Homo sapiens: one gene and its partners. The protein of the gene in region 1 interacts with the protein of each later gene in a pairwise test. Each region holds a gene or a part of one and is shown in the gene's direction. Other genes may lie near its edges. The genes, in order: MMGT1, SLC7A14, ITGAM and PLPP6.

The links.
Region 2: the proteins of MMGT1 (region 1) and SLC7A14 interact in binary tests that used the Homo sapiens proteins (3 or more experiments, as listed by UniProt).
Region 3: the proteins of MMGT1 (region 1) and ITGAM interact in binary tests that used the Homo sapiens proteins (3 or more experiments, as listed by UniProt).
Region 4: the proteins of MMGT1 (region 1) and PLPP6 interact in binary tests that used the Homo sapiens proteins (3 or more experiments, as listed by UniProt).

What each region holds. Positions count from the first base shown.
Region 1 is NC_000023.11:135,970,775-135,978,478, reverse strand, and holds the start of MMGT1 (ER membrane protein complex subunit 5), read left to right. Parts: upstream 1-4,490; 5' UTR 4,491-4,803; coding exon 4,804-4,882; intron 4,883-7,368; coding exon 7,369-7,421; intron 7,422-7,704. UniProt on the Homo sapiens protein: Part of the endoplasmic reticulum membrane protein complex (EMC) that enables the energy-independent insertion into endoplasmic reticulum membranes of newly synthesized membrane proteins.
Region 2 is NC_000003.12:170,575,717-170,583,323, reverse strand, and holds part of SLC7A14 (solute carrier family 7 member 14), read left to right. Parts: intron 1-7,607. UniProt on the Homo sapiens protein: Imports 4-aminobutanoate (GABA) into lysosomes. May act as a GABA sensor that regulates mTORC2-dependent INS signaling and gluconeogenesis. The transport mechanism and substrate selectivity remain to be elucidated.
Region 3 is NC_000016.10:31,255,616-31,263,347, forward strand, and holds the start of ITGAM (integrin alpha-M isoform 2 precursor), read left to right. Parts: upstream 1-4,359; 5' UTR 4,360-4,449; coding exon 4,450-4,477; intron 4,478-6,076; coding exon 6,077-6,182; intron 6,183-7,732.
Region 4 is NC_000009.12:4,657,896-4,665,773, forward strand, and holds PLPP6 (polyisoprenoid diphosphate/phosphate phosphohydrolase PLPP6), read left to right. Parts: upstream 1-4,398; 5' UTR 4,399-4,480; coding exon 4,481-5,368; 3' UTR 5,369-7,363; downstream 7,364-7,878. Other genes in the region: SPATA6L (spermatogenesis associated 6-like protein), read right to left, coding at 4,004-4,141. UniProt on the Homo sapiens protein: Magnesium-independent polyisoprenoid diphosphatase that catalyzes the sequential dephosphorylation of presqualene, farnesyl, geranyl and geranylgeranyl diphosphates.

The sequences.
Region 1 (7,704 bases):
GGTTTCACCATGTTGGCTAGGCTGGTCTTGAACTCCTGACCTCAAGTGATCTGCCCGCCTCAGCCTCTCAAAGTGCTGGGATTACAAGCGTGAGCCACCGTGCCCAGCTAGGAAGGCTATTTGAAATGAATAATCATATTAACCTCACACAAGTAACCTAGGATACTTTGTGCACATGTGGTAATGAAACCCTAAGAGAGATATTAGTAGATCTGGAAATGGTCCAGAGAAGAGCAATTAAAATAGTCAAAAGAGAGAAGCAATTGATGTTTTAGGAAAGACTAAAAAGGTAAGGAACCTCTTTAGCTTACAAAAATAGCTAGAAGGGTCAATAGCAACAACAACAATGGCTGACATTTACTTAGTGTTTACTATGTGTAAGACTATTCTAATCACTTTATATGTATGATCTCACTCAATGCTGATAACAACCTAGGCAGGTAAACACTATTATTATCCTCATTTCACAGATGAGAAAACTGAGGCGCAGTGAAGTTAAGTAACTTCTCCAATCTCTCAGAGGTAGAAAAGGAAAAGCAAGGATTCAAACCCAAAACTATTCCAGAGCATATGCTTTTAACCACTGTAGTGTAGATCATCCAGCAAGTAAACAAATCTTAAAGATATGAATCATGTAACCACAGTACTGTTTACTCAGATTCAAAACTTAAAATACCAAGGTACCACTTAATGCTTCAAGACAAATACTTTTTTTTATTGTTTGAATTTCTTACAATGAGCTCATACCACTTTGGTAATGAAAAAAAAAAAGTAAACAGGATGCGATTTCAATATTGAAAGTACTAGTTTACTCGGCAGGTAGTAAACTTCTAGAATGTGTTACCCAGAGAGGTTGTACGAAATATAAATAGCTCAAAGAAAGGTTTTGTGCCTACAATAGGTATATATCTCATAAATATCTATAATAGTCAGGAGCATATTCCTAAGGAAAGTGGAATTTTGAACCAGGTGGGAAAGAACAGTGTGCCAGATCGAGGGAGAATCTGCATGGAAAATGGAGACGTGGATAAGCAGTGTGTGAAGATACTCGTGGAGCTGGGTGGCATGTAATAAGTCAATTAGCTTGAAGATGAGTCTGGGATAGCAGTGCTTTCTCTATTCAGTGAACTAGCCTGGGAAACGTGATAAGTCTTCACAAATAACATCTCAGTAGGAAACGCTTTAGAGACCATTATCCCCATCTTTAATAACATCCACATCATTTATCCAAGGTGCATATGGAAAATGGCTCTTTCTTTGGAAAAACAAACAGCACTTCTGGGGTCACTTAGGAATTTAAATGCACTTTCTCATGAGGTTTGACTTTTGTTCTAAGAGCTCATGAAAACAGTGCTACCACTAGCTGTACCTTGCACCTTTGGGATTAACTGCAACTTAAAGAACCATGTATGAGTGAACCCAAGGTACTTATTTGAATGATACAGTCCTTGGTAACTGTGACTATGAATACCTTGGCTTCCCTTCAGGTTGGAATCTACAGAAAAGACAATTAAAATCTCACTCCCTGAACATAATTTAACCATGTATTACTAGAAAATGTGAAACGAGGCTAGTTTCTCTTGCATTCAGTATATGGGTAAAGAGGTAAAAAAAGAGTGAGAAATGCATCTTAAGAGGGCAATAGAGAAAACAAAACTCAATATCTGGACATGGGTGATCTCCCTGAAGACTAGGATAATGCATTGGTGGTTTATACAAATACCAGATTCATTATTGAATTTCTTTTTTCCTATAACTTCATCTTTTTAAAGGAAAAGAACCAGATCTCAGGTCCTATAAGAAAACTCCTAATCATTTTCTGCTTCAGATAAATTGATATTAAAAGGGTTTTTTTCTTTTTTCTTTTTTTTTTTTGGAAATGGAGTTTCACTCTTGTTGCCCAGGCTGGAGTGCAATGGCGTGATCTCGGCTCACTGCAACCTCCGCCTCCTGGGTTCAAGCGATTCTCCTGCCTCAGCCTCCTGAGTAGCTGGAATTACAGGGGCCCACCACCACGCCCGGCAAATTTTTTGTATTTTTAGTAGAGATGGGGTTTCACCATGTTGGCCAGGCTGGTCTGGAAGAAGGGGTAATTTTACAGGGGATCTGAAAAGGCTAATTTCAATCTGACCATTATTTTAGACAAAACAAAGTTGTAAGATTTTTTTGGTCAACTATCTTTTCTACCTTATTACCTCCCAGGGGCGGAGAAGGAAGCACTTTCCTGTCAACTACAGAGAGATTATCTCCTGGTTCTTCCTGATTGTATAAATAGAACTACATTTGTAAGGAATGCATTATACTGCACTTGACATCCATCAAGTATTGTGTAAAATTCTGGCTTAGAGGTGAAGAAATTGGAAAGGGCCCAGAAAAGAATAATGAACATGACTAAAGGTTTGGAAAATGAGATCCAGGACAAAAATTATATAAGTAAAGTTGAGGAAATATGATTAATTTTAGATGTCTTCTTCTACTTTTTTTTTTTTTTTTTTTTGGTTAGAGAAAGGGTCTCGCTCTGTCACTCAGCCTGTAGTGCAGTGGCATAATCATGGCTCACTGTAGCCTTGAACTCCTGGGATCAAGCAATCCTCCTTCTTTAGCTTCCCAAGTAGCTAGGACTACAAGCATGTGCTACTATGCCCAGCTAATGAGATGTCTTATTTGTTTTTCCAGCTTTGAGGAAGCTCAAGCATATCAGAAAATGTTTACAATCAAAAGGTTGTCAAAATGTGAGAGTACATGCAAGTCCATGGGGATTTTTGAGCCCAATTCAAAAGATTGGAAGGACTCTCTGTAGAGATCCTTTCAAATAGGGATACTGTCCCAATTATTTTCCGGAATTCATTTGTCATTCAACAAGCACTTATTGAATGCTTATCACATGACAGTCAAAGTTTTAGGTACAGAGAAATCTCTGTTCTCTCAGAGCTTACATTCCAGTGGGGAAAGACAGACAGTAAACAGTAACACAACAAACATAAATAGTTAAATTATATAGTATGTTAGAAGGTGATATAAAAAGTAGAACAGAATAAGGGGATCAGGAATAGGAATTTTGCACATTTAAAAGGGGTGGTCAGGATAGGACGCATCTTTGAGCAAAAGCAAATTGATGCAACTAAAACGTAGAATTCTGATTGGGTTAAAGGAAAAGAATGGTGATCATACTTTGCATTTACCTTGTGATATGCAGTTTACAAAGCTTTGCCACTCAGTCAGGGGTCACTGGAGGAACTGGTGCAGAATTTGGAAAAAAAGGATGAATTCCATTTTAGCCATATTACGTTTTAAGTGCCACAGGAAATAAATGCCTATCTGGTAGTCAGAAATGCAGCCCTGGAGCTAAGGAGAGATATTTGTGATAGAGATGTCGATTTGGAATCACTGTAATACCTTTGCTGGCTGAAGCGGTGGGAATGAATGGGTGAGCTCCCCAGGGGACAGCAGAGTGATGAGGTCAAGGGGAGAAGCTCACTATTAAATGTCTACATTTCAGGAGATGAAGACAAAGAAAAATGGGCAGAGGAGTATACATTTTACCCGGATCAGAGATAGAGACAAGGCAAGAAGGCTGCGTTATTAGCATTTTAAAATTTCCTCTTTCATTTCTTCCTTAATGTAAGCTGGTTCTTTTCACGACAAAACACTCCCCCCGCGCTACACCTCTTTTTGCGCGAATCTTTCTCCAGGACCTTAAAATGGTTTACTGAGCACTTCCCGCGAGCCAAGTATTTGGGGTTCCAGATCCTGGGATTTTGTCCTGACACTGCCTCCTCGTTTTAACACCCTTGCCTCCTTCTGCAGTGCCAGTTTCCAGGGAGCTGAAGCACAGGAAAGGCCTACAGAAAACAAAAGGCACAGTTTCACAAAAAGCCAAAACCAACCAACCCACAAAACACAACTGTCAGGGGTCTATATCCAGCACCTACCGCCTTTCCCCAACGCCCCCAGCCCCGCCCCTCGGCCCCACCTCCTCCCGCCCCTCGGCCCCACCTCCTCCCCGCCCCCTCGGTCCCACTCCTCCGCGCCCCCTCGGTCCCACCTCCTCCCCGCCCCTCGGTCCCACCTCCTCCCCGCCCCCTCGGCCCTCACCCACTCTCCGTCCCCTCCGCCCCGCCCCCTACGCCCCACCCATCCTCCCGTAGGCCCCGCCCTCGGCCCCACCTCCTCCCCGCCCCTCGGCCCCACCTCCTCCCCGCCCCTCGGCCCCACCTCCTCCCCGCCCCTCGGCCCCACCCATCCTCCCCGCAGGCCCCGCCACTCGACCGCACCCACCAGGGCCCCCCCCCCCCGGCTACGCCCACCCACCCACCCACTGGCCCCGCCCCTCGGCTACACCCACCCTCGTGCGGGCCCCGCGCGTCTTCCCCACCCCGCCCGTCTGCCTACCCCGCCCCTCGCCCCCACACGTTCTCTACGCAGGCCCCCGTCCCTCTGCCCCACCCTGTTCTCGCCACTGGCCCTGCCCCCATTTGCCGGCGCCCTTCCTCTTCGCTTCCCCGTAGCTCCCGCTTTCGCCTCTTCGTTTATGACTCCGTTGGGCTCCGGCCCTCCTAGAGAGGCCTCCATAGCGCAGGTTCGTGGGTTCTCGCGGACCTTTTTCCGTGTAGCTTTCTGCTTCTTCCCGGCATTCCTGTTTCCGTTTTCTCACAGCCCTCTGGCTTTTCCACCACTGAGACACTTTGCGCTCAGGACTTCAGTGACGTCATCTTTCTGCGGCGCGCGGACACCCGCCGGTGGAAGAAGAAACAGCTCCGCCGTCCTTCGCTTCTTTTGCTGGGCTGCTGCTCCTTCGGCATCATGGCGCCGTCGCTGTGGAAGGGGCTGGTGGGCATCGGTCTCTTTGCCCTAGCCCACGCCGCCTTTTCCGCTGCGCAGCGTAAGTGCCTGGGGCACGGGGACCGCTTCGGTGTGGAACCCTAGGGGCGGTGTGTGGGCGCACTTCTAAGGGACCATCGGACCGAGTGTCAGATTAATGGTCCTTTGAGACCTTACAGTTTGGGGTGACTAAGAAAATCAGTGCAGGAGTTCCCAGTGGAAGGTTCGGAGTTTGAATTTGGAGAGAGTGTGGCACCTGAAATTGCAGGAAGGTTGGAAGGAGGTGTCTGGGAGAGGGTTCAGAATAGGAGTCTCCAGGAATCCAGGACAAGTGATGTCAGATCCAGCATGGGGCAGATCAGGCACAGTTGTGAGATTGAGGACTCTGGTTGCTCATGGTCCCACGACAACCAAGTGGACAACATCTTGGGCACTCTTGGGCTGTCCAGGCAGAGACTGAGTAGTTAAGTGACCGATTGCCTCAGGGAGGCACTGTGGTACAGGAGAAAGAGCACTGGACTGGGAGTCTAAAGGACTGGTTGTTAAAAACTTGCATTACCGCTACATCTGTGTGACGTTGGGCAAAAGATTTGTGCTACACTGCGTTATGAAATTCAGTTTTGGGTCGCTGTTTGAAATTGCGCTGTGTTTAGGTGCTAGAGATACAGTGATGCCCTGAGCCAGTTCAAAGTCTAAAGGAAAACAAGTGGATCAAGAAGTAGTTACAATAAAGTGATATGCTAAAAGTATATAAGGATGCATGGAAGCAGGGACAGTCATATTTTGGGGGAACTGGGAGGTTAAGGAAAGTATCCTAGATCCTTGCTGCTTACAGTGTGATCAACAGACCAGCATCATGAGCACCACCTGGCAGGTAATTAGAAGATACTCAGGCCAGACCTGTTCAATCAGAATCTGGGTTTTAATAAGATCCCAGGGTGATTTGTATGCGCATTAGTTTGAGAAACACTGTCCTGGAAGAGATTAGGATACACTGGAGTACTGTGTCATTTTCTACAGTAAGCTTTAACTGTAGAATTATATGATTGTGGGGCGAGAAGGGCCTTTGGAGTTCACTGAAGTCCAACCCCTTCATTTTACAGATGAGGAAATTCCTGGTTAAAGGTAGTGTTAGAAGCAGGCGAGGCTTCATGCAAACTAGCAAGCTAGCTAGGAATTGAACCAGATAGGAGATTAGTCAAAATCGATTTTTGGTGTTGGTTTGATGTTTCTTTTACACTTGTCTTTATGACAGAGCTGTAGGTTAAAACTTAAGAAATGTCTCTAAACACATTCTTCTTCAAGAGTCAATACACATGCACTCAAAAACAGTTTGAATTATTTAGTCCAAAGTACGTTATTAAATAGGGATTGTCCTAGGTTCATCTAGAATTAAGATTTTTGTATTTTATGTTTTGGGTGATGAGAATGCCTTGTGGATTTGCCACTGCAGTGAGACCTCTTTATATATAATGCTCATGTTAGGGAGAGAGTAATATGTAACTTTAAGACTAAGTGTGTCATGTCAGACTGTAGCAGCAGATAGCACAATGTGGTGCTGTGGCATGCTCATCTTTGCTGTAATGAACTTTGTTACAGTAGGGCACCAGTCATTTACTGTATCTTGTTTAATCCTCACCTCACATTATTCTCATTTTACTGTTGTGGAAATTCAGGTAATGAAAAAAATAGATACTGTATTTCTTTGATTCTAAGACACCCACCATTTTAACACTCTGAACTTGAGATATGTATTATGATCACTGCGGGCTTCTTTAATTAAATGAAATTATAGTAAATTGAAGAGCTGGCACTGATTTAGGCTTACCAGTTTCCAAATCCTGATCCTTTTCTTTTATCCCTTGCTGCCTCCTGAGGTTAAGGCAGCAGCAGCGGAATTATAATTAACTAGTAGAGGCAGAAATTGATTTCATGGAATTCCTATTCCACCACTGCCCCAGCGTATCCTCTCAGGAGAACCATTTCCATACCAGTATTATTTTGTCCATACTGTGTGGTTGGTGGTGGTGCTATTTCAGAGTTGAGATTTTCTGTAGACTTTACTTTTTAAATAATTGTGATTTCTTTGGCGAGTTAGTGAAAGTAACGGTTTTGAGAAGTTTCTAGTATTTCTATAATAATGAAAGAAAAATTATACTAAGGTATTTCTGCCTCATACTTGCTCACTTGTCACTCTTACCCATTTTATAAGGTGACAAAGCAGGTCATGATGAAAATAAAATAGTTGACTAAGATAGAGCTGACTACCTTAGAAGATAGAAGGTTTTGAGGAATCCAGGATTAGCATTACTTTATGTAGCATATAAGTCAGCCACTTCTTTTTTTATTTTTTATTTTATTTTATTATTATTATACTTTAAGTTTTAGGGTACATGTGCACAATGTGCAGGTTAGTTACATATGTATACATGTGCCATGCTGGTGTGCTGCACATAAGTCAGCCACTTCTTTGGTATATTGATTTGCTTCATTTTAAGAAAGAAAAATGAACTACAGTTTCCTTAATGGTATGCTTCTGGTTTATAGATCGTTCTTATATGCGATTAACAGAAAAAGAAGATGAATCACTGCCAATAGATGTAAGTTGGTCATTTATATTCCGTTACATGTATGTTTAAAATCAGCCACATAGCTTGTAATAATTTTTTTTTTACTGGTTTTTCGTAAAATTTTTCAGACATGAAATAAAATCTGATCTCCACTTTTCTTTTCTTTTCTTTTCTCTTTTGAGACGGAGTCTCACTCTGTCACCCAGGCTGGAGTGCAGTGGCCTGATCTCAGCTCACTGCAAGCTCCGCCTCCCAGGTTCACACCATTCTCCTGCCACAGCCTCCCGAGTAGCTGGGACTACAGGTGCCCACC
Region 2 (7,607 bases), on another chromosome or scaffold:
TATTCCAGTGTTGTCTAACCCAACATACCTGGGAGATATGACCCACCTTCCTCAGTAACAGTTTTCTCTGAAGCAGCAATTCACAAATGGGAATGGTAGTGTGTCATTTCTTTACTTGCCCTATCTTGTCTATATCTCCTCTTCTATGACCTATTCCCCAAAAAATAATTTTCCCAAAATTGGTTACCCTAAGCAACTGCCCATGTTCTCATAGGGACTGGGAAAAGGCCCTAATAAGACCTAAGGATTTTTATAAATAAAGATCATTATAAGTGCTAATATCTATGAAATGCTTATCATATGTGAGGCACTATGTGAAGTTATTTCATCAATCATTTTACTGAATTATCACAATTCTGTCAAGTAGGTGGCTCCACTAAAGATGGTCCTAGGATTCTAGTTCGCTCTAACATACAGCAGAACCTGATGTTCTGTTCATTTCCTCTTTCTTCTCTTTCCAGCTCATAGTAAAGTCTCATCTTCATCAATTGGATTTTTGTATTTAATTGATAGTTCCATCCTGCTCCAAAACATAGCATTTAGAAATTCAAATTCAGTTCAAATGACACTGTTTTGCTCTCTCATCTCTTAATATTTACCAAACATATTCTCCCCATTTGTTATCTCTTATTTAAAAATTCCCATATGGCTTCTTATTGATAATGTCAACATTCTGCTTCAAACCTTCTCTAGAGCCAATTAAGGTATAATTTGTAATTAAATACATAACTTCTATTGTACCTTCACTAGGTGATCTGTCAAGAATGCTATTGCTGAGGTGCTCTGGGCCCTGTGAACCAGAACCTTAAACTGTCTAGAACTGCTCTGTCCAACATGGTAGTTGCTAGCCACATGTAACTATTTATAATTAAATTTTAATTAAACTTTTTAAAATTAAAAATTTAGCCCCCCAGTCACACTAGTCATATTTCAAGTGCTCAATAACTCTATATGGCTAATGACAACTGTGTTGGACAGGGCAGATATCAGAAAATTTTTATCATTTAAGAAAGTTGTGTTGAAAAATGCTGCTTTAGACAGTACTAAACACACCCTCACAGCAACCAAGAACTAGGAACTGGGAAGAAGTAAGGACCTACTCTTCTTTGAATCTTCTGCCAAGAAAGAAAGAAAAAGCCACTTATGCCTAATACATCACCAGTAGCCCAAAGATACCTAGGACAATTAGGCTATGAAGGAGTGTGCATGTCTTACTTAAGGAGCTGGTAGCCTCTGGAGTTTGCTTCATATGAATTCTATGTTACTATAAAGTAAAATATTCCATGAATGAGGTTTGCTGGTTTCATGAATTTTGACTTAGATACAATCTGAAAGTTCCAATTCAAAATCCAAGTTTATAGATTACATGTATATGTAATAACATGTGTGTGTGTTTATCTTGTCTTAGTAATCATAGTATGATAGACATGGAAAGAATATAAGACTTGGAGTCAGTAGTACAGGTGTCACATACTACTTGGTGACATTATGAGGCCCTCTAGAGCTCCATTTCTCCATCTCTAAGATGTTGATGAGAATTGCCATAACTATCTCAAAGGACTATTGTAAAACTCAAAGTGTAGGTATACGAAAGTACTTTGTAAGGAGCATGATTGAATCTGCAATGGTTTATTATTTTATATAGATATGGTACAATGTACAAATAGGGTAGTTCAGGCTGAATGCATTTCTGAATGATTTTAATCTGATATGACTGTATTTTTGCCTTTGTGGTCATTTATTTCACTGAAAAGTGGAACGGTGAAGAAAAAATTTAGTTATTGAAATTTCTGATTGGTTAGATTCTATTAATTGAAATACCGTGCATTGTTTGTTGTTTAGTTTATTTGGTCCTGAACATTTTCTTCTCAGGATTAAAAAAAATAATAACTAGGAAATCTAAGTTGTTTGGAACAGCTTTTACCTTTTAACTAATAGTTTTTAAGTAATCATCAATAATGAACCCATCATGGTAATAGGGGTTCAGAAATAACAAAATACAAGCATTATGGATATTCCTCAGTGTGAGGGGGTGAGAGGGATAATTTTCAAAACATATTTTTACTAATTACAAATTGAAATGAGCTTCTATCCATTCTCATAGATCAATCAGAACAAGAATAATTCTATTTCATGCATTGATTAAACCAAAACAAAAGTGAAGGTCATTAACTTGACTGAATTATTGAGTTTGCATTAGGGATTCTAACCTTAAATAACAAGTCTTTATTCATTCTCTAAGTTGAAATCTGTTGGGGTCATTAGGAGAACCTTATGCATCTGGCTAACATTTACTCCCAAACCTGGCATCTATGACCTACTCCCGCACTTTGATCTGTGTATGCTATTTATGCGTCAAGTAAAACTGCTTTTCAGATGCAGCCATACCTTCTATAGTGGCTCACGATTTTGATACTTAAATATTTTTCTCTTATAACACAAAGATTAACACAGTGCTCAGATATTGTAGAAAATAAGCCTGGAAACAAAGCTATTCCATCAGATGTTTCTTCACTGTATTTATTAGGTTTTATCATCTTGAAAACTCAACGAAGTCACTTTATTTATTCATTCATTCATTAACAAAGCACCTGAGAATCAAGCTGAGTATGACCAAGGGCATGAGGTTTTATCTCCAGTTCCAGAGATCTAGTTTACCTTTGTTTAGAGTTAACAAAGGTATAGATGCTACCTTGTAAGATGCTCTGCCAGGTAAATAGTTGAGATATACACTTAGCCACTGTTTCTGGTCAAGCCTGCTGTCCTCAAGCCTTTGTTGCATATGGGACTATATTACTGAAGGAAAAATAAGCGAAGCTGTTAACTCTGGCCTCTAGTAGATGATGCTAGCTTTAACAATAAACATATGTTGTTGGGCGTCATGATTTATTCACTTCATTGGACTTGTTTACCTCTTGGAAAGACCTGGATTTTGGAAAGGGGAAAATGCCATTACCTTGGAGCTGAAAAGAGTTCTTCTCTGTCTGTAGCTTAAAGGATTTCTCTAATTGTAGATCCCAAGAGATAAAGAGAACTGACAATGTAGCTTTGAAACAAATCCTAATAGCATACAATCATCCATTTAATCAATAACATAGTTGAAGAATGTCCTATTTTGACACAAAAATGTTGTGGTTAAGGATGTTTGGAACACATGGATGATCAATAAATATTTGGTGAATTCAGACCATTGTTCCAGGTTAATTCATGCCATACACTCGTCTATCTCTACCAAGAATTCAGTATTCCCTATGGCATTTTCCTTTAGCAAATAAAACAGGAGGCAAACACAGTATATCAAATCTTACCCTAATAACCACACTTCTAGCCCTTCTCGGGGCATAAATAGTGATGGCCAAGATAGACTACTCCTGAGAACCGTGTCTTGCTGCTTCACCCAGAAAACAAAGCACAAATCAGCCCAAGGGCCTTGCATTTCACTGTGATGAGGCAACTTCAGAAACTCAAAGCTTAAATGGAGTTGTGTGTTCTTTTCCACTCTTATCTTGAAGAGATACCTGTCATTTCCTTCAGAAAGTATTTGGCTGGCCTTCATGATAGCAGCAGGCAATTGCTATTGTTCCTAAATTCAGAAGAAGCTTAGCTTAGAATGAAAGCACATATATTAATTAGAGGAGAACTAGCGACATTGCAGTCTGATGGTTTACAGAATATTATCCTTTTCCAGGAATAATAAGGCTTCCCTTTAACGGTTTTAACTGGTGATTACTGACAAAAATGAAAGAAAAACAGCTCATTCTATTCTAGCAAGTCAATAAGGAAACGCCTAGAATTAACTGATTCTTATTTGCCAAAGGCAAAATATTCCAACCCAATGAACAACAAATGATCAAGCTGGTTCTCATTTTCTCTTCATTTTAAAAAAATTTTTCCATGTTTTTGAAAAATAATCAGTAAATAAGAAACAATTGCACCCAGGTGTTTAAACATTCTGTTGACAAAATGGTCTTCAGAAATGGAAAGGCTTAATTGTTTGTTAGAGATTATACAACATATTATTATGTCAATATTTTATAACAATCACATAACTGAACTCTCTCACTTTAGAGAGAAATTGATGCTGGGAACACTCACCTGAGTTGATGTCAGAGGAATATGACTTGAGTCTTCTCTCTCTCAGGCAATTATAGAACCCACTCTGCATTTTTTAACATCATGCATCATTTCATTAGTCATGAAAACTTGTTTAGTCTATGAGTTTATCAAAGATTCAGGTTTATCTTTTCTCAAAGATTCAGGGAGTAGGAAAGAGTATGTGTTTGGATTTCAGATTATTTCCCTTTGTACCTCCAGGTGAAAGAACTACTGGTCAAGGATGGTCAGCAGGTAGAAATTTCAGGGGTGGAACTATAAGCCATAGAAAAAGATTCAAAACCTCAGCATCATCCATGTTGCAAGAACTTAGGCAAGGATTTAACTCTTCTTACTTTTTAATCTTCATCCCTAAAAGAAGTTATTTAGATTAAATAGTGTACAATATCCTGCAAGCCATAACATTCTATGGTTCGATGAAATAGGGCCAAGAGCTTGAATAATCCATTATTTGCCTCCTTAAGACCGAAGAATTAAACATAAATCAAGATTCTTATTTTTACATCATTATTTATCAGAAGTTCTGAATTTCATGCTAGTACCTTACCTGGAAACAATAATGATAATGATAGCTAATACTTATATACAATTACTATGACTTTATAAGGTTGGTAATGCTATCATCGCCATTTTACAGATGAGAAACCTGGATACTAAAGTAGTTAAATTACCTGCCCAATTTGACACAGGTAACAAGTTTGTGCTACCATGCTACACCGCCTCTATAAAAACCACAAATCTGACAGATAGATAGCTGATGTGTGCCATTTATAGCCACTTGACACACCAGCCAATTCTCTGGAGAATTTCTATTTTAGCTCAATTTTTTACTAGAAGAGCAACCAAGATGGTGAATAGAACTTCAGTCCTGTGTGTGGGAATCTACATTGTCTTTCTGTAAGATGGCTCTTGTGCTTTTGCAATTGATGTCATTGACCAATTGTTTACGTGATTCAGCATTGAATGTTGGTGCTGTGCAGGTGGCTGCATGTGGTGAGGACCACTCTTCTGCCTCTTCCCAGAATGTGTGGCCAGCCACACCACCAGAAATAGATGGATGCTGGTGCAGGATCAATCCAGCACCTTCTAATGCTATAAAGGTCAGCCCACCACATCTTTACTGTTCAGTAGAGTCTTCTAGCTTCTGCCTTTAGGTTTTTGACTCAGTGTAACAATCTAGACAGCTTTTACAGTAGAGAGGGAGAGCTCCCAGAGTGTCATTTCCTGGAGGTAGGCTTGGGTCAAGGCTAAGACTAAAACTTTCAAAATCATGTTGTGAAAATCGTTTTCTTCTCATTAATCCTATGTTAACAAATTAGTCATAAATACAATACACCACAGTACCCATCTGTTTCACTGTGTATTTCAATGTACTGAATATACAAATGGGCATTTAGCTCTTAATATGGTATATCTAACCAGCTGAGAATGCTCTGACAGTAGTCAAATATACATGTTTATTCTTTAGCTCTAGTTTCTGGCTTGTTAAACTAGCTACATATCCCATCAACACCAAGGCCAATTACGGAATACATAACTCTACTTCTTCCTCTGTGGTTTTCTTTTTTTTTTTTTTTTTTTTTTTTGAGACGGAGTCTCGCTCTGTCGCCCAGGCCGGACTGCGGACTGCAGTGGCGCAATCTCGGCTCACTGCAAGCTCTGCTTCCCGGGTTCACGCCATTCTCCTGCCTCAGCCTCCCGAGTAGCTGGGACTACAGGCGCCCGCCACCGCGCCCGGCTAAGTTTTTGTATTTTTAGTAGAGACGGGGTTTCACCTTGTTAGCCAGGATGGTCTCGATCTCCTGACCTCATGATCCACCCGCCTCGGCCTCCCAAAGTGCTGGGATTACAGGCGTGAGCCACCGCGCCCGGCCTCCTCTGTGGTTTTCTAGATACTCTGTGGGGAGCGGGATGGCCTAGGAGTCAGAAGATCTGCTTTCCAGACTCAGCTTTGAAATGTACTACCTGTGACACTTGGGCCAGCACCATTCACTACTTCAAGACTGAACTTCCTTACCTTTAAAATAGGGGTAATAGATCTTGCCCCTCACATTACAAATAGGGCCAGTGAGATGGCATTAATTAAAGCTCCTTGTTAACCATAGAGTTAGTCCAGAGGAAAGAGATGGGTTTTCCATCCTTTCAGTCTTTCCCAGCCAGAAATTACTCTCAAGCTGTTGATACCCAATTCTGAACCAGGGTTGACAGCTAAATCAATGTCTTCAAGGTTAAGAAGAGCTTGGATTTAAATTTGTAAATCTAGAAAATGGCACTTACAATAGGAGAGGCCTCCTGGTTTCTTCCAAATTAATGGTCCTCAACCTGAGGCAATGTCACCTCAATAAGGGGTATTTTATATTGTCACAGATACTGGAGGAGAGGGGAGTTACTACTGACTTTTGGTGGACTGGGATCTAGAATGTTAAATATCCTGCATTAGACAGAAAAATCCTGCAGAATAAAAAATGTCCTGTCCAAAATGCCAATAGCACTCCACCCCCACTGAAAAATACCGCTCTAAGTAATGTGCTGTTCCTGGTCCCTAATTCTCCAATTGATGCAGACAGAGAGCGTTTACTTTTCATCTCCACCCACAGGTGAAATCCAGCCATGCTCATGTGAGGTCTGTAGTAGTTATTGTTCAGAAGTATGACCAGACTTCCAGTAAGTTTACCAATAAGTAAAACAATGGGGTCAGAGATCAGTGGTTTTAAAATTAGCCCCCAGAAGCTCCTACAAAAAGCCTCCTCCAACCTCTGCAGGGGCAAAGATTCCCAGCAGGTTAATATGCCTATAATGTGAGAGCTGGCCTAAAGGTTGGCATTTAGGGATGCAAAATCAGTAAATCATGATTCTAAAATGACTATCTTTGCAATTTATTGAAGAAACATTGTAATATTCACTTGTTTTATGACAAGCATGGGCCTAGCTAGGCACTGGATATGAGACATAATCCCTGCCTCAAGTCACCAGTAATCTGAAAGTTCCACAGATGTAATCCCCACTAATTATGTATGCAACATGACACATGCTATAACATATTATGAGGGAGCCTCCAAGGAGAGACCAGGAAACAATTCACTTCCACAGAGGAAATTATAATTGAACAGTATCTTGAATGGTATATAATATTTTTTCAGGTGGATAAATGAGAGAGAAAGCTATTGTAGAAATGGGACCAGCATAAGCAAATGCTGAAGGTGTGAACAGAAATGATACAAGTGCAGGCTGACCTTATCTGGCTGGTGGGAGGTCATACTGGAAGGACTGAAGAAACTTGAATACAGATAGGTGGATGTATTTATTCAGCCAGGGGCTTATCCTTTGAACAGGGATTTTATGAGTATCTTAGGAATATCATTTGAATTCAGGGCTCATGGAGTCCAATCTTGTAACTAGAAGAAATCTCAGAAATCACCCTACCATGCTCTTTTCCCTATGTATTACAGTTGAAGTAGTTAAAACCCAGAGATATTGAGTGACTTGCCCAAAGT
Region 3 (7,732 bases), on another chromosome or scaffold:
AGTGAGCCATTGTGCCTGGCATTAGCTCCTTCTTTTCCTCACTTTCCCACCAGTGTTTCCGGAATCACCTTCCAGATAAATTACTTACACTTGAAGCCTTGTCTCAGAGTCCACTTATAGGGGAAATCAAGCTAAGATTTTATCAAGAGTGGGGATGGGGGACAGGTAGGAGGGAACAGCCAACAGCTTATAGATATGTCCCCACCCACGGTCACCAGGTCAGGTGCACACTTGGTGGTGGCTCATTGAGAAAGCCTCTGCAGGTTGGACAGCCAGTCTGAGATCTTGCCTATGTTTTTACAGAGAGTGGACCCTTGGCCACTGTTCAGGGCAAGGAGGGGCCTCCACGTCTGAGTTCGAGCAGCCCCCATAGTGGCCAGAGTGTGAAAACTTTTCCCAAAGCAAACCCAGCTGATCTACTAAACTCCTCCCCGGGCACCCTGGTTGGTATCTTCTCATCTTGGGCTCATGACTTCGTTCGTCCTTTCCTCAGCTTCTTTACCTGCTAACAAATACAGGTAACCTGTTGTTTTAAATTATCTATTGGTATTTTTTATGATTATGAGTCTTTTTTTTGTATAAAGGTCTTTTTTTTTTTTCTCTTTGAGACATGGTCTTGCTCTGTTGCCCAGGCTGGAGTGCAGTGTTGAGGTCATAGCTCACTGTAGCCTCAAACTCCTGGGCTCAAGTGATCCTCTTGCCTTGGCCTCCCACAGCATTGGGATCACAGGCATGAGCCACTGCACCCAGCCTATATAAATATTTTAAGTACAAATGATATAGAAAAGAATATTAAAGTCATCTTGTAGCAGATTGAATACAACCACAAATTCCTCCCATTGGGAGGTGGGATCTGTGTCCCCTTTGCTTGAATGTGGATGAGCTCTGTGACTGCCTGATCAATGGAATGTGGTGCAGATGACTTGGCGCCAGTTTCCAGATCAAGACCTTAGTAGCCTGGAAATTTCTGCTTCCTGTCTGTTGGAACACTTGCTCTTGAAGTCCAGCCACCATGCTGCGAGAAGCCCAAGCCACATGGAGAGGGCACGTGGGGGTGCCCAGGTGACAGCCCCAACTGAGCTCCTAGCCCACGGCCAACTGCCAGCTGTGGGAGTGACCCATTTTGGGAGCCCAGCCCAACTGAGCTTTGGATTACTCTAGCCCTGGTTGTGATCCGACTGCAATCATGTGAGAGACCCCGCTGAGAACTGCTGAGGCCAGGAGATTCACAGATACGCGAGAGATTATAATATGCTGCTGTTTTTAACTATGAAGTTTTGGAGTAGCTCGCTCTGCAGCAATAGATACTGGAACATACCTGTAATCCTCCTATCTTGGAGATAACGACTATTAACATTTGGTTTTCCTGCATATATATATATATATATATATATATATATATATATATATATATATGATTTATTTTTGTATGTATGTACTTATTTATTTAATTTTAATTTTTTATTTTTTGAAACTGAGTCAAGCTCTATTGCCCAGGCTGGAGTGCAATGGTGCAATCTCAGCTCACTGCAACCTCCACCTCCCAGGTTCAAGTGATTCTCCTGCCTCAGCCTCCCAAGTAACTAGGATTACAGGTGCCTGCCACCACGCCTGGCTAATTGTTGTATTTTTAGTAGAGATGGGGTTTCACCATGTTGGCCAGGCTGGTCTTGAACTCCTAATCTCAGGTGATCCTCCCACCTCAGCCTCCCGAAGTGCTGGGATTACAGGCGTGCCTGTATATATTACATGCCCTGCCTATATATATTTTAGAGACAGGGTCTGGCTCTGTTTTCCAGGCTGGAGTGCAGTGGTGCAATCATATCTCACTGCAGCCTCAACCTCCTTGGCTCAAGCGATCCTCCCACCTCAGCCTGTTGAGTAGCTGGGACCACAGGTGTGCATCACTATGCCCAGCTAATTTTTAAACATTTTTTTGTAGAGTCAGGGTCTTGCTGTGTTGCCCAGGCTGGTCTTGAGTTCCTGAGCTCAAATGATCCCTCTGCCTTGGCCTCCCAATGTGCTGAGATTACAAGCAGGAGTCACCACACCTGGCTATATATAAAAATTATAAACAGATAATTTTTAACCAAATGTACATAATTTTAATTGCTTTTTTTTTTTTCAGCCAGCAAGCATTTTTTTCCATCTAGTTATCGGGAAAGTAGAACTAGAGGCAAAAGAAAATGTGTTGAATGGTGAAACCCTGTCTCTACTGAAAATACAAAAAATTAGCCAGGCGTGGTGGCAAGCACCTGTATTCTCAGCTACTCGGGAGGCTGAGGCAGGAGAATCACTTGAACTCGGGAGGCAGAGGTTGCAGTGAGCTGAGATCACGCCACTGCACTCCAGCCTGGGCGACAGAGGGAGACTCCGTTTCACAAAAAAAAAAAAAAAAAAAAAAAGAAAATGTGTTGAGAAAGAGTGAAAAAAATCATTGGCTTGAGAATCACATTGGCGGTCACATAAAGGTGAGGTTTGTGTTCCATGTATGTGTGGAAGGATACCTATTTTCCTGTGCCTTTGAAAACAGAATTAAAAGTGACAGACACAGGGGAGGGTAAGGATATATCACAGAGTGAAGTATCATTGAACCATTCCTCTGTTGAATATTCAGGTTTTTTTAGCTTTTCATATTAACAATAATGCTGCAATGAACAAGCTTGCAAATATATATATATATATATATTTTTTTTTTTTTAGAGATAAGAGTCTTGCTCTGTCGCCTAGGCTGGAGTGCAGTGGCACAATCTCTGCTCACTGCAACCTCCGCCTCCAGGGTTCAAGTGATTCTGCTGCCTCAGCCTCCCAGGTGGGATTACAGGTGCCTGCCACCACGCCTGGCTAATTTTTTTGTCTTTTTAGTAAAGATGAGGTTTCACCATGTTGGGCAGGCTGGTTTCAATTGCTGACCTCAAGTGAGCCACCCCGCCTCAGCCTCCCAAAATGCTAGGATTACAGGCATGAGCCACCGCACCCAGCCAAGTTTGTACATATATTTTTGACTACACTTCTTAACTATTCTTAGGATAAATTACTAGAAGTGAAAATTCTTGGGTGAAGAGCTTGAGGCCTTTACACACACACACACACACACACACAAAAATAGGCTGGATGCAGTGGCTCACACCTGTAATCTCAGCAGTTTGGGAGGCTGAGGAAGGAGGATCACTTGAGTCCAGGAGGTTGAGAATAGCCTGAACAACATAGCAAGATCTTGTCTCTACAAAAAATTTAAAAAAAATTAGCTGGCCATGGCAGCATGTGCCTGTAGTACCAGCTACTCGGAAGGCTGAGGTAGGAGGATCGCTTGAGCCCAGGAGGTTGATTGAAGCTGCAGTGAGCTGTGATTACACCACTGCACTCCAGCCTGGGCAACAGAGCTAGACTCTGTCTCTAAAAAAAGCACAAAATAATATTTAAAAAGCACCAGGTATGCCTGTACTTGAGTTGTCTTTGTTGATGGCTACAAATGAGGACAGCTCTGGCTGAAGGGCGCTTCCATTTCCATGGGCTGAAGGAGGGACATTTTGCAAAGTGTGTTTTCAGGAAGACACAGAGTTTTACCTCCTACACTTGTTTGATCTGTATTAATGTTTGCTTATTTATTTATTTAATTTTTTTTTTGAGACAGAGTCTCACTCTGTCACCTGGGCTGGAGTGCAGTGGCATTATTGAGGCTCATTGCAGTCTCAGACTCCTGAGCTCAAACAATCCTCCTGCCTCAGCCTCTGGAGTAGCTAGGACTACAGGCATGTGCCACCATGCCTGGCTAATTTTTTAAATGTATTTTTTTGTAGAGTCGGGGTCTCCCTATGTTGCCCAGGCTGGAGTGCAGTGGTGTGATCCTAGCTCACTGCAGCCTGGACCTCGGGCTCAAGTAATTCTCACACCTCAGCCTGTCCAGTAGCAGGGGCTACAGGCGCGCACCACCATGCCCAGCTAATTAAAAATATTTTTTTGTAGAGACAGGGTCTCTCTATGTTGCCCAGGCTGGTTTCAAACTCCCAGGCTCAAGCAATCCTCCTGCCTTGGCCTCCCAAAGTGCTGGCATTACAGGCGTGAGCCACTGCGCCTGGCCCGTATTAATGTTTAGAACACGAATTCCAGGAGGCAGGCTAAGTCTGTTCAGCTTGTTCATATGCTTGGGCCAACCCAAGAAACAAGTGGGTGACAAATGGCACCTTTTGGATAGTGGTATTGACTTTGAAAGTTTGGGTCAGGAAGCTGGGGAGGAAGGGTGGGCAGGCTGTGGGCAGTCCTGGGCGGAAGACCAGGCAGGGCTATGTGCTCACTGAGCCTCCGCCCTCTTCCTTTGAATCTCTGATAGACTTCTGCCTCCTACTTCTCCTTTTCTGCCCTTCTTTGCTTTGGTGGCTTCCTTGTGGTTCCTCAGTGGTGCCTGCAACCCCTGGTTCACCTCCTTCCAGGTTCTGGCTCCTTCCAGCCATGGCTCTCAGAGTCCTTCTGTTAACAGGTGCATGGGGGTGGGGTGGGGGACTCTGGGTGGGGAGGAGGGTAACTTTTGGGTCTGTCATAAATAGAGGGCCCAGAATATGTAGGAGTCAGTCTGGGGAGAGGCAAAGGGGATTTGGGGAAGGAGAAAGGGTTCAAGAAGAAGCAGGGAGAACAGCTAGACCCAGACAGGCTGGCCAGGGAAGCCTGGATGAATGACCACATTCATGGACTGTGCAAGGCTGCTTGCCGGTCCCCTTGCTTCACACATGAGGAGACGGAGGCCCAGGGAGGAGAAGTGACATGGCTCAGGGTGCGCAGCAGGTGTGAGACCCCTTTCCTGAGTGCTTCCTCCTGGATCCCCTCTCACCATCTCCACTTTGCCTCCGGTTCTATTTTCCAAGGTCCCGGGTGCAAATGTTTGTTGAATGACTGATGAATGAAAATGATTTGAGTTTGTTACCTTTTATGCTTATATGTTGTGGAAAATGAAATTCTCCTCAAAAGGGAAGGAAATACTTGAGAGCTGCATAGGAAGGAAATTATCTAATTAAGAATGTATAGAAACTTCACTGTTGGGCAAATCATCGTTGTGACACCGGGGGAAGAAGCCATTTAGGTGCTCAGAAGGGAGGCTGGAATTCAGAGCAGGACTGGACGTGCCCCACGACGGTGGTTCTTAGGTCAGGAGTCAGCAAACAGTGGCCTGGGGGCCCGATATGGCCCACGACCTGTTTTTGCACAACCTGCCAGCTAGAGATTGAAGATGAACACTGATAATCGATTTGATGATAGGGAGCACCACCCCCAAAGAATTCTATTTGTCTCATTTGTAAACCCGTATTACAAACAAATTGTACTCAATCATTATGTTTGAAATTTCCCTAATGACAAATTTGTGGAAAAGTATTTTCTGTCTTGTTATATAAGTACTTGTACAACATATTCTATCAGCCTCTTGGTCTGCAAAACCTAAAATTTACTATCTGGCTGTTTACAGAATAAGTGTGCTAATCCCCGCCCCAGGCTAACAGAGCTGGACCTGGGAGGCAGACATCTGGATGCTGGGTTAGTTAGGGTGACCGAATGGATGGGAAAGGGAATGGAGCAGGAAGACATGCTGCTATCTTTTTTTTTTTTTTTTTTTTTTGATACAGGGTCTTTCTCTGTTGCCCAGGCTGTAGTGCAGTGGCATGATCATGGTTCACTGCAGCCTTGACCTCCTGGGTTCAAGCAATCCTCCCACCTCAGCCTCCTGAGTACCACTACACCCGGCTAATTTTTTATTTTTTGTAGAGATGGGGTCTCACTGTGTTGCCTAGGCTGGTCTTAAACTCCTGAGCCCAGGTGATCCTCCCACGTCAGCCTCTTAAATTATTGGGATAACAGGCCTGAGCCACCACACCCAGCCATTGCTTTCTTTTAAATTATTATTAGTTTTTGTTTTTTTTTTGTATTTAATTTTGAGATAGGATCTCTCTCTGTTGCTCAGGCTGGAGTGCAGTGGCACAATCAGGGCTCAAGTGATCCTCCTGCCTCAGCCCTCCAAAGTGCTAGGACTACAGCCCCTAACTGGCATGCTACTTTCCTCTGCTTGATCCTTCCCCCATTCTCCCTTTAGCCTTGACCTTATGTCATGGGTTCAACTTGGACACTGAAAACGCAATGACCTTCCAAGAGAACGCAAGGGGCTTCGGGCAGAGCGTGGTCCAGCTTCAGGGATCCAGGTGAGACCCTTAGATGGAGCCCCCTTTCTCAGTGCTTTCTCTCCAAGACTTACATACCTGAAAAAAATCAGCGATTTGAGTGATCTTTTTCAACAGATAAATCAATTCAAAATATACAACAAATTCATCTTTTGAATTTACAGTATTCTAAATTCAAAAGATGCAAAAGGGTGTAAGAGTAAAAATCTCTTCCTTACTCCCTTCCCCTAGTTCCCTTCCCAGGAGGGACCTCACAAATGGTTTCCTGGGTGTTCCTTCGGGGAGACTCTGTGTGTGCATAACACATACACGTTCCCTCCCTCAGCCAACACACCATGTGTAGTATACATTGTACTGAAATTAAGGCCTGCCTGCAGGCTGCCGCCTATTTTTGTGAATGAATTTTATTGAAAACAACTCCGTCCACTTGTCTCTTACTGTTTATTGCCCTTCCCTCCCTTCCTCCCTTCCTTCCTTCCTTCCTTCTTTCCTTCCTTCCTTCCTCCCTCTCTCATTCCCTGCTTCCCTCTTTCCCTCCTTCCCTCCCTTCCCTCCCTTCCATCCTTCCTTCCTTCCTTCCTTCCTTCCTTCCTTCCTTCCTTCCTTCCTTCCTTCCTTCCTTCCTTCATTTCTTTCTTTCCTTTCTGACATGGTCTTGTTCTGTCATTCAGCCTGGAGTGCACAGGTGAAATCATAGCTCACTGTAGACTCAAACTCCTGGGCTCAAGCAATCCTCCCACCTTAGCCTCCTGAGTAGCTGGGACTACAGGCATGTGCCACCACACCTGGCTAATTTTTTGATTTTTTTTGTATAGACGAGGTCTCACTCTGTTGCCCAATCTGGTCTCAAACTCCTGGCCTCAAGTCATCCTCTTGCTTGGGCCTCCCAACTTGCTGGGATGATAGGTGTAAACCACTGTGCCTGGCTATGGCCACTTTTGAGCTGTAATGGCAGAATTCAGGAGCTGTGATAGAGATTGTATGGACCCTGAAGCCTAAAACATTTACCTTTACAGAAACAGTAATTGTGGAGGTGATAGTACCTTTCCAGAAGAAGGGGGCTGGTCTCTGCTCTTTGCTTTATCTCCCATAATACAGCCCAGTGATTTGAGTCCATTAATCCCATGTTATGCTTGCATTGCATGCCATAATTGGGAGATGCTATAATTTATTTTATTTTATTTTTTTAGAGACTCCCTCTGTCGCCCAGGCTGGAGTGCAGTGGCATGATCTTGGCTCACTGCGACTTCTGCCTCCTGGGTTCAATCGATTCTCCTGCCTCAGCCTCCTGAGTAGCTTGGATTGCAGGTGCCTGCCACCACGCCTGGCTAATTTTTGTATTTTTGTAGAGACAGGGTTTCACCATGTTGGCCAGGTTGGTCTTGAACTCCTGAGCTCAGGTGATCCACCTGCCTCGGCCTCCCAAAGTGCTGGGATTACAGGCTTGAGCCACCGTGCCTGGCTTGTAATCTCCTTTTACATTACATTAGATCTCTTGTTAATGAACATTTAGATTGTTCCCAAACTTTTGCTCTATGAACAATGCTGTCATTTTGCACATGTGCAAGCCT
Region 4 (7,878 bases), on another chromosome or scaffold:
TTTGCTTACCTAGGAATTTAAAGCACTGGAGCCGCCCCAGCCTAATGACTTCCCCCACCCCCAATTTTTTTAACAGTACACACACAGAGTGAATGCCGTGTAAATATTGGAATTACACTGCCACAAGCCAAGGAACTATACCAGAAACTAGGAGAGAGGCCTGGAATAGGTCCTTCCCTAGTGCCTTTAAAAGGAATATGTCCCTGCTCACACTCTGATTTCAAGAATTGTAGCCTCCAGAACAGTGAGATGATATGTTTCTGTTGTTTAAGCCACTCTATTTGTGGTACTTTTGTATAGCAGCTCTAGGAAACTAATATATCCATATCTAAGGATTTTCTCAAGTATGATCTTGGGGAGTAAATAATCAACATGAACTGCTTAAACAATGACTTATATATTCTTATGAGTAACTTGTTGACCCAAATGCTTCAGAAAATTCCATTTTGAATTACACAGAAGATCCGAGGAAAAGAAAATTTTTTCACTACCTGCTGAAAGTAGTTGCAGCTAGAGAAGGAAACAGATACAAGGAAGCTAAAACCAACAGGAAGAAAGGAATATGAACCCAAACAACTCATGCAAGAGGACAATTAATTGACTGAATTTTATAAAATGAAAAAGTGGTTCCATGATTTGTTTGACTAGTAATCTCAAATGTACAGCTTTTCAACAGAGCCATAGTGGCATCTGAAATGTGACTCAGGCTCACTCTTCTCTTTGACAAATCAAGGAGGTTGGAGTTATCTAGTTGTGTGCTTCTACAGTTTTGTATCTTTGGGCTTCTTATAAAAATATTTTTAAAGACTTTTACAGGCCAGATGCAGTGGCTCATGCTGTAATCCCAGCACTTTGGAAGGCCAAGGCGGGCAGATCATTTGAGGCCAGGAGTTTGAGACCAGCCTGGCCAACATGGTGAAACCCTGTCTCTACTAAAACTACAAAAATTAGCCTGGTGTGGTGGCAGATCCCTGAACCTGGGAGGCAGAGGGTGCAGTGCCCCAAGGTCTTGCCACTGCACTCCAGCCTAGGTGACAGAGCAACACTCTGTCTCCAAAAAAAAAAAAAAAAAAGGCTTCTACAGAGCAAATTCAAAATTGATATAACTAATAAGAAAATTATTGGGATGGGGGAAAGACTGCACTTTTACCACCAACTTTTTACCATTTCTAACATCTAACTGGGAGAACTAAGTTCCTTTAGATTCTGAGTATATGTTCCAAGGTAATAGCCATTTATTTCTCTCCTCACTTATCCAGCCAGTTTGGTACATTCTTCATTTAAATTAATAGGTTGTGATTTATAAAAATGTTACATACAACCTTAGCCCTTCAGAAAATTGATCTTCATCTCCACTGTCAACCTCAGGTTGAAACAGATAGGTCACTTTCTGGGCATCACTTTCCAGACCTTTAAAAGTGACATGCTCAAGTCTCAGGATACAAAATCAATGTGCAAAAATCACAAGCATTCCTATACACCAATAACAGACAAACAGAGAGCGAAATCATGAGTGAACTCCTATTCACAATTGCTTCAAAGAGAATAAAATATCTAGGAATACAACTTACAAGGGATGTGAAGGACCTCTTCAAGGAGAACTACAAACCACTGATCAACAAAATAAAAAAGAGGACACAAACAAACGGAAGAAGATTCCATGCTCATGGATAGGAATAATCAATATCGTGAAAATGGCCATACTGCCCAGGGTAATTTATAGACTCAATGCCATCCCCATCAAGCTACCAATGACTTTCTTCACAGAATTGGAAAAAACTACTTTAAAGTTCATATGGAACCAAAAAAGAGCCCGCATTGCCAAGACAATCCTAAGCCAAAAGAACAAGGCTGGAAGCATCACGCTACCTGACTTCAAACTATACTACAAGGCTACAGTAACCAAAACAGCACAGTACTGGTACCAAAACAGAGATACAGACCAATGGAACAGAACAGAGGCCCTCAGAAATAATACCACACATCCACAACCATCTGATATTTGACAAACCTGACAAAAACAAGAAATGGGGAAAGGATTCCCTATTTAATAAATGGTGCTGGGAAAACTGGCTAACCATATGTAGAAAGCTGAAACTGGATCCTTTCCTTACACCTTATACAAAAATTAATTCAAGATGGATTAAAGACTTAAATGTTAGACCTAAAACCATAAAAACCCTAGAAGAAAACCTAAGCAATACCATTCAGGACATATGCATGGGCAAGGACTTCATGACTAAAACACCAAAAGCAATGGCAACAAAAGCCAAAATTGACAAATGGGATCTAATTAAACTAAAGAGCTTCTGCACAGCAAAAGAAACTACCATTAGAGTGAACAGGCAACCTACAGAAAGGGAGGAAATTTTTGCAATCTACTCATCTGACAAAAGGGTTAATATCCAGAATCTACAAAGAACTTAAACAAATTTACAAGAAAAAATCAAAAAACCCCATCAAAAAGTGGGTGAAGGACATGAACAGACACTTCTCAAAAGAAGACATTTACACAGCCAACAGACACATGAAAAAATACTCATCATCACTGGTCATCAGAGAAATACAAATCAAAACCACAATGAGATACCATCTCACACAGTTAGAATGGCGATCATTAAAAAGTCAGGAAACAACAGGTGCTGGAGAGAATGTGGAGAAACAGGAACACCTTTACACTGTTGGTGGGACAGTAAACTAGTTCAACCCATGTGGAAGACAGTGTGGTGATTCCTCAAGGATCTAGAACTAGAAATACCATTTGACCCAGCCATCCCATTACTGGGTATATACCCAAAGGATTATAAATCATGCTACTATAAAGACACATGCACACGTATGTTTATTGCAGCACTATTCACAATAGCAAAGACTTGGAACCAACCCAAATGTCCATCAGTGATAGACTGGATTAAGAAAATGTGGCACATATACACCGTGGAATACTATGCAGCCATAAAAAAGGATGAGTTCGTGTCCTTTGTAGGGACATGGATGAAGCTGGAAACCATCATTCTCAGCAAACTATCACAAGGACAGAAAACCAAACACCGCATGTTCTCACTGATAGGTGGGAATTGAACAATGACAACACTTGGACACAGGGTGGGGAACATCACACACAGGGGCCTGTCGTGGGGTGGGGGGAATGAGTTAATGGGTGCAGCACACCAACATGGCACATGTATACATATATAACAAACCAGCACGTTGTGCATATGTACCCTAGAACTTAAAGTATAATTTTTTTAAAAAAATGTGACATGCTCTACTCTGTAGCCTTCCTTCTCCCCAGATCTCCCTCAATGACATTGTTTGGGGCAAAATCATTAGACTTATTAAGGTTAAAATTGATTCCATCTCCAAATTCCAAAACAAAAATGTTAAGAGATTGTCAGTGATGACATAGTAATAACATCAATATTCTATGAATAGTTTAGTGTGAAGAAGGCTGGTAATGTTTTGACTATTTATATCACCATGTTATTCACCAGAATGGAATCTAGCCTTTATCACTGTAGCTAAATAATCTAGGTATGATCTGAGGAAACAGTAAATCTGAACAGCCTTTTTGTTACAGGATTTTAGTTACAGGATTTAACTAATTTCATTATTTTTTTTTCGCTATTTTTCTTGGTCTAACACAGTTTTTTCTAAGGTCCACAGTTTATTAATAATCCCTTTCGTAAATGTAATGCAATTACCTCTAACACCTCCAAAAACATTCAGAAATGCTCTCTTTGCTCCAGTTAAAAAAATGCCATGGGAGTTCCAAGAATAGGAAACATCAACCAGGGTATTTAGCACTAGATTGACAGAACTTGGCTCAGACCTGCATTACAAAAGCAAGTGTTCCGACTGCGGTTTTGCATTGTGCTGAAGTGCTTTCGGATAATTTTTTTAAAAATGAAATTTACCAAATAATGCTGTAAGAACTCTGTTCTTTATAAGAACTCTCAGGTTATCTTCAGACAACAAAAGCCAATGAGAAAGTCAAGATCACCTTTTCAAATCTCATGCTCTCCTGAATCATAATGGGGAACGCAGAGGGAAAGCTGTTGGTCTCCAGGTACTGATTCATGAGGTAGACCCCGAGGTACACATCTTGTTTGCCAGGCAGGAACACTCCTGGGCAAGAAATCTTAAAAAGAAAGAAAACAACAAACAAGGGAGAGAAAACAGACTTTGCTTTGTTTTGTTACACGGGGCTCTATTTCTCTTAAGCTCCTACAGACACTGACATTTTCCCCATCACCTCACTCCCTCACCTGTACCTCCCAACGCCAACATCCTCCCCTCTGCTCTCCTCACATTGGAAATTCCAACTCCCTCCCACGTCTCCACCAGGTGTCACAATCGCGCTCTCGCCGGCTCCTCTCCCCGCCCCTCCGGGATGGTAGTGCGGAAGCGGAAGAGGCTGCAGGGCCGGGAAGCCTCTGTTTGGTCCGGCCAGGTCCCGGGATCCGGGCCGCCAGCTGCGATGCCAAGTCCCCGGAGGAGCATGGAGGGACGGCCGCTGGGCGTCTCCGCTTCGAGCAGCAGCAGCAGCCCCGGCAGCCCAGCCCATGGCGGCGGTGGCGGCGGCAGCAGGTTTGAGTTCCAGTCCCTGCTCAGCAGCCGCGCCACGGCCGTGGACCCCACCTGCGCCCGGCTCCGTGCATCGGAGAGCCCAGTTCACCGCCGCGGCTCCTTCCCCCTGGCCGCGGCGGGCCCCTCGCAGTCGCCCGCGCCTCCGCTGCCCGAGGAGGACCGCATGGACTTGAACCCGTCCTTCCTGGGCATCGCCCTGCGCTCCCTGCTGGCCATCGACCTGTGGCTGTCCAAGAAGCTGGGGGTGTGCGCGGGAGAGAGCTCGTCGTGGGGCAGCGTGCGACCCCTTATGAAGCTGCTGGAGATCTCGGGACACGGCATCCCCTGGCTGCTGGGCACCCTCTACTGCCTGTGCAGGAGCGACAGCTGGGCCGGGCGCGAGGTGCTGATGAACCTGCTCTTCGCCCTGCTGTTGGACCTGCTGCTGGTGGCCTTGATCAAAGGGCTGGTCCGCAGGCGCCGCCCGGCCCACAACCAGATGGACATGTTTGTCACTCTCTCGGTGGACAAGTACTCCTTCCCCTCGGGCCATGCCACAAGGGCCGCCCTGATGTCGAGGTTCATCCTGAACCACCTGGTGCTGGCCATTCCACTGAGGGTGCTGGTGGTTCTGTGGGCCTTCGTCTTGGGCCTATCCAGGGTCATGCTGGGGCGGCACAATGTCACCGACGTAGCTTTTGGCTTTTTTCTGGGCTACATGCAGTACAGCATCGTGGACTATTGCTGGCTCTCACCCCATAATGCTCCGGTCCTCTTTTTACTGTGGAGTCAACGATGACACCATCTCATTGATTATGGCACCAGGAAGTCTGAAGGTTTCCACATTCGATGATGTCAACCTAAACCAGCAGCCATCCCGCTTGTCCCTCTTAGGCATTTCAGGCTTCCTTTGGGATTTCAGGTGTCCCATGATCTTGATGTGCTGCTAGGCTGGAGCACACACTGGCCATTACTGAACACAGCCATATTAGGGAAAGCAAAAAAACCCAAAAAATCCTCTATTGTATATTTATTCAACAACTGTTTATGTTTCCAGGACAACTGCAAAGAAAACAAGCTGAGGTGGTTATACTGTTGCTGTTAAAAGTTGGTATCAGTAAGATTTGTGTTTTGTGATAATCCCTAAATCAACATACCACTTGTAAACTGAACTTCGAGAAAGAAACATGATGTTCATTCTGTAAATATACATGCAGACAGGTCATGTACTAATCCTAGTCCTTTTCCTGAGGTAGATTTTAAACAGTATTTTTAAAGTCCAAGACATAGGTTTTTCTAGTTTATTCCCTGAAGATCTGTTGCCACAGTTGGGAGATTTCTTCTTAATCCTGATTTTCTTGGTAAGCTTTTTTACTTTATTATCTCTATAATTTATTATCTCTATCCATATTTGTGGATCGGGTAGTGGGAAAAGAGATTATAATACTTGTCTTTCTCTCCTCTCCCTCCATCCCTCAAAAGATCTTTATGCATTTCCCACTACTCCCTTACTGTCTTTTAGCATTCAGAGAAAAAGCCAACTTGCTTAAAGAGGAATCACTTAAAAGGTAGGCATATCTAAGATGCTCATAGAAGAGGAAGAATGGGACATGGCCCCATGCTTATTTTTGTTTACAACGTAACATGGCATGAGAGAGGGCAGAGAAACTAAGTTGCTGGGGAAAGTTAGAGGAACTGAAAGTTTGGGAATAGGCTGACCACATATTATGCCAGTGACCAGTATGACAGGAGATGGGGCCCTGCTGCCAGTCATCTCCACTGAATAAAGAATAATGCTCCTCTTTCAGGGTAATAAAGTGGGGAAAAGGAACGTCTTCTCAATGCAAGAACATAAGCTTTCTCGTATATACCTGTATGCTACAGTTTTTCACATGGAATTCCGTTTTCTGAGGTACAGCACATTTTAGGTAACAGTATTTAACTTGAAATTCATCATGGGAGTCTGCTGCTATACCAGGCACAAGATAAAACTCCAAAATTTCTGTTTACATTGACCTTTACATTTAAAGCTGTTCATCCATGGTGCCTCCCCAAATCATAAGACCAAAGACCACCAAACGCAGGGTGGACTCTGCTCATTATTCTTTGACCCAGAAAGACTGGAGAAGGTATGTGCTTTAAGTGCTGCTCTACCTGAAAAGAAATCCTTTAAATTACCTATGGAAGTGATGTCCTCAGATAATCTTAATGACTATTTTGGCATTTATAAATAGAAATGATTATGGACTTTGATCTGCCATACGGAGGTTCGGAACCTGGAGAACGGCTGTGATAAGTAGGTTTTGATTGAGTGAAAGCATGAGCTTGTTCAGAGTGAGGGGCATAGTGAAAAAGGAACAGCCATGCCTCAAAATCAAATCATTTGCATTCCCACAGCATCCTGAATACCGACTACCTCTTCACTTGCTAAAGCAGCTAAACTGTGAAGCTCTAAGTGGTTTGGGTTTGTTGTTTAACCTTAGCGAGATCCTTTAACTGCAGCAATATTCAAGCCAGATATTTGGAAGCAAATGATATTTCCTCTTGCAGTGTCCACAAATCTGAATATTAGGGGCATGAAATTAGGCTTACCATCTGATTTGTAATTACAATTTTGGAATTCTCTGTTTTAGTTGCTGAGGCCTGAGTTTTCTGGCTCTTAAAGCATAGATCATTTCACCTGATGTTTTTGAAGCATCCTAAGTACAGTAGAGTAGAAAACTGATTTCTTTGTTAATTGTACACTGAATAATGCCTTTTAAAAATCAAAATAAAATTAACAAATAATGGTGAATGAAGTGAGATGAAAACTTGCTTAATTTTTGCCTTGATGAGGAGGGAGACAGATTTATCACTTAGCTTCTCAAGAGTTCCTTCTTCCTGCACAATTTTTAGAGCTTAAAACTGGTATAGCACTACTAATAAGGTCTAGCCCTATTTGCTGTCAGCAAAGTGGGACAAATCCAGGAAATGTTGATCACCTTTCACACCCACATGTATGATGAAACCACACCATTTGCCAATTGTATGGAAGACAACCAGATTCCATGACAATTTCCTGTTAGCACTGTGCTTGTAATCATAGCCAGTAGAAAAGCCCCTAGAGGAAAAGCGGCATGATATTCTGTTACTAACTACATGGAAGGATTGGAAAATGGAAACTGAAATAAGAGGGAGTGACAGACCCCCAAGTAGAAACCATGGAGTCACTCTGCCACAGCACTTCACTTAGGAAGGATTTGGTAATTACGAAATAGTGATTGATTGATTTCCCTTTTGGAATTAGCAAGCCAGAGCTATCACTAAGGG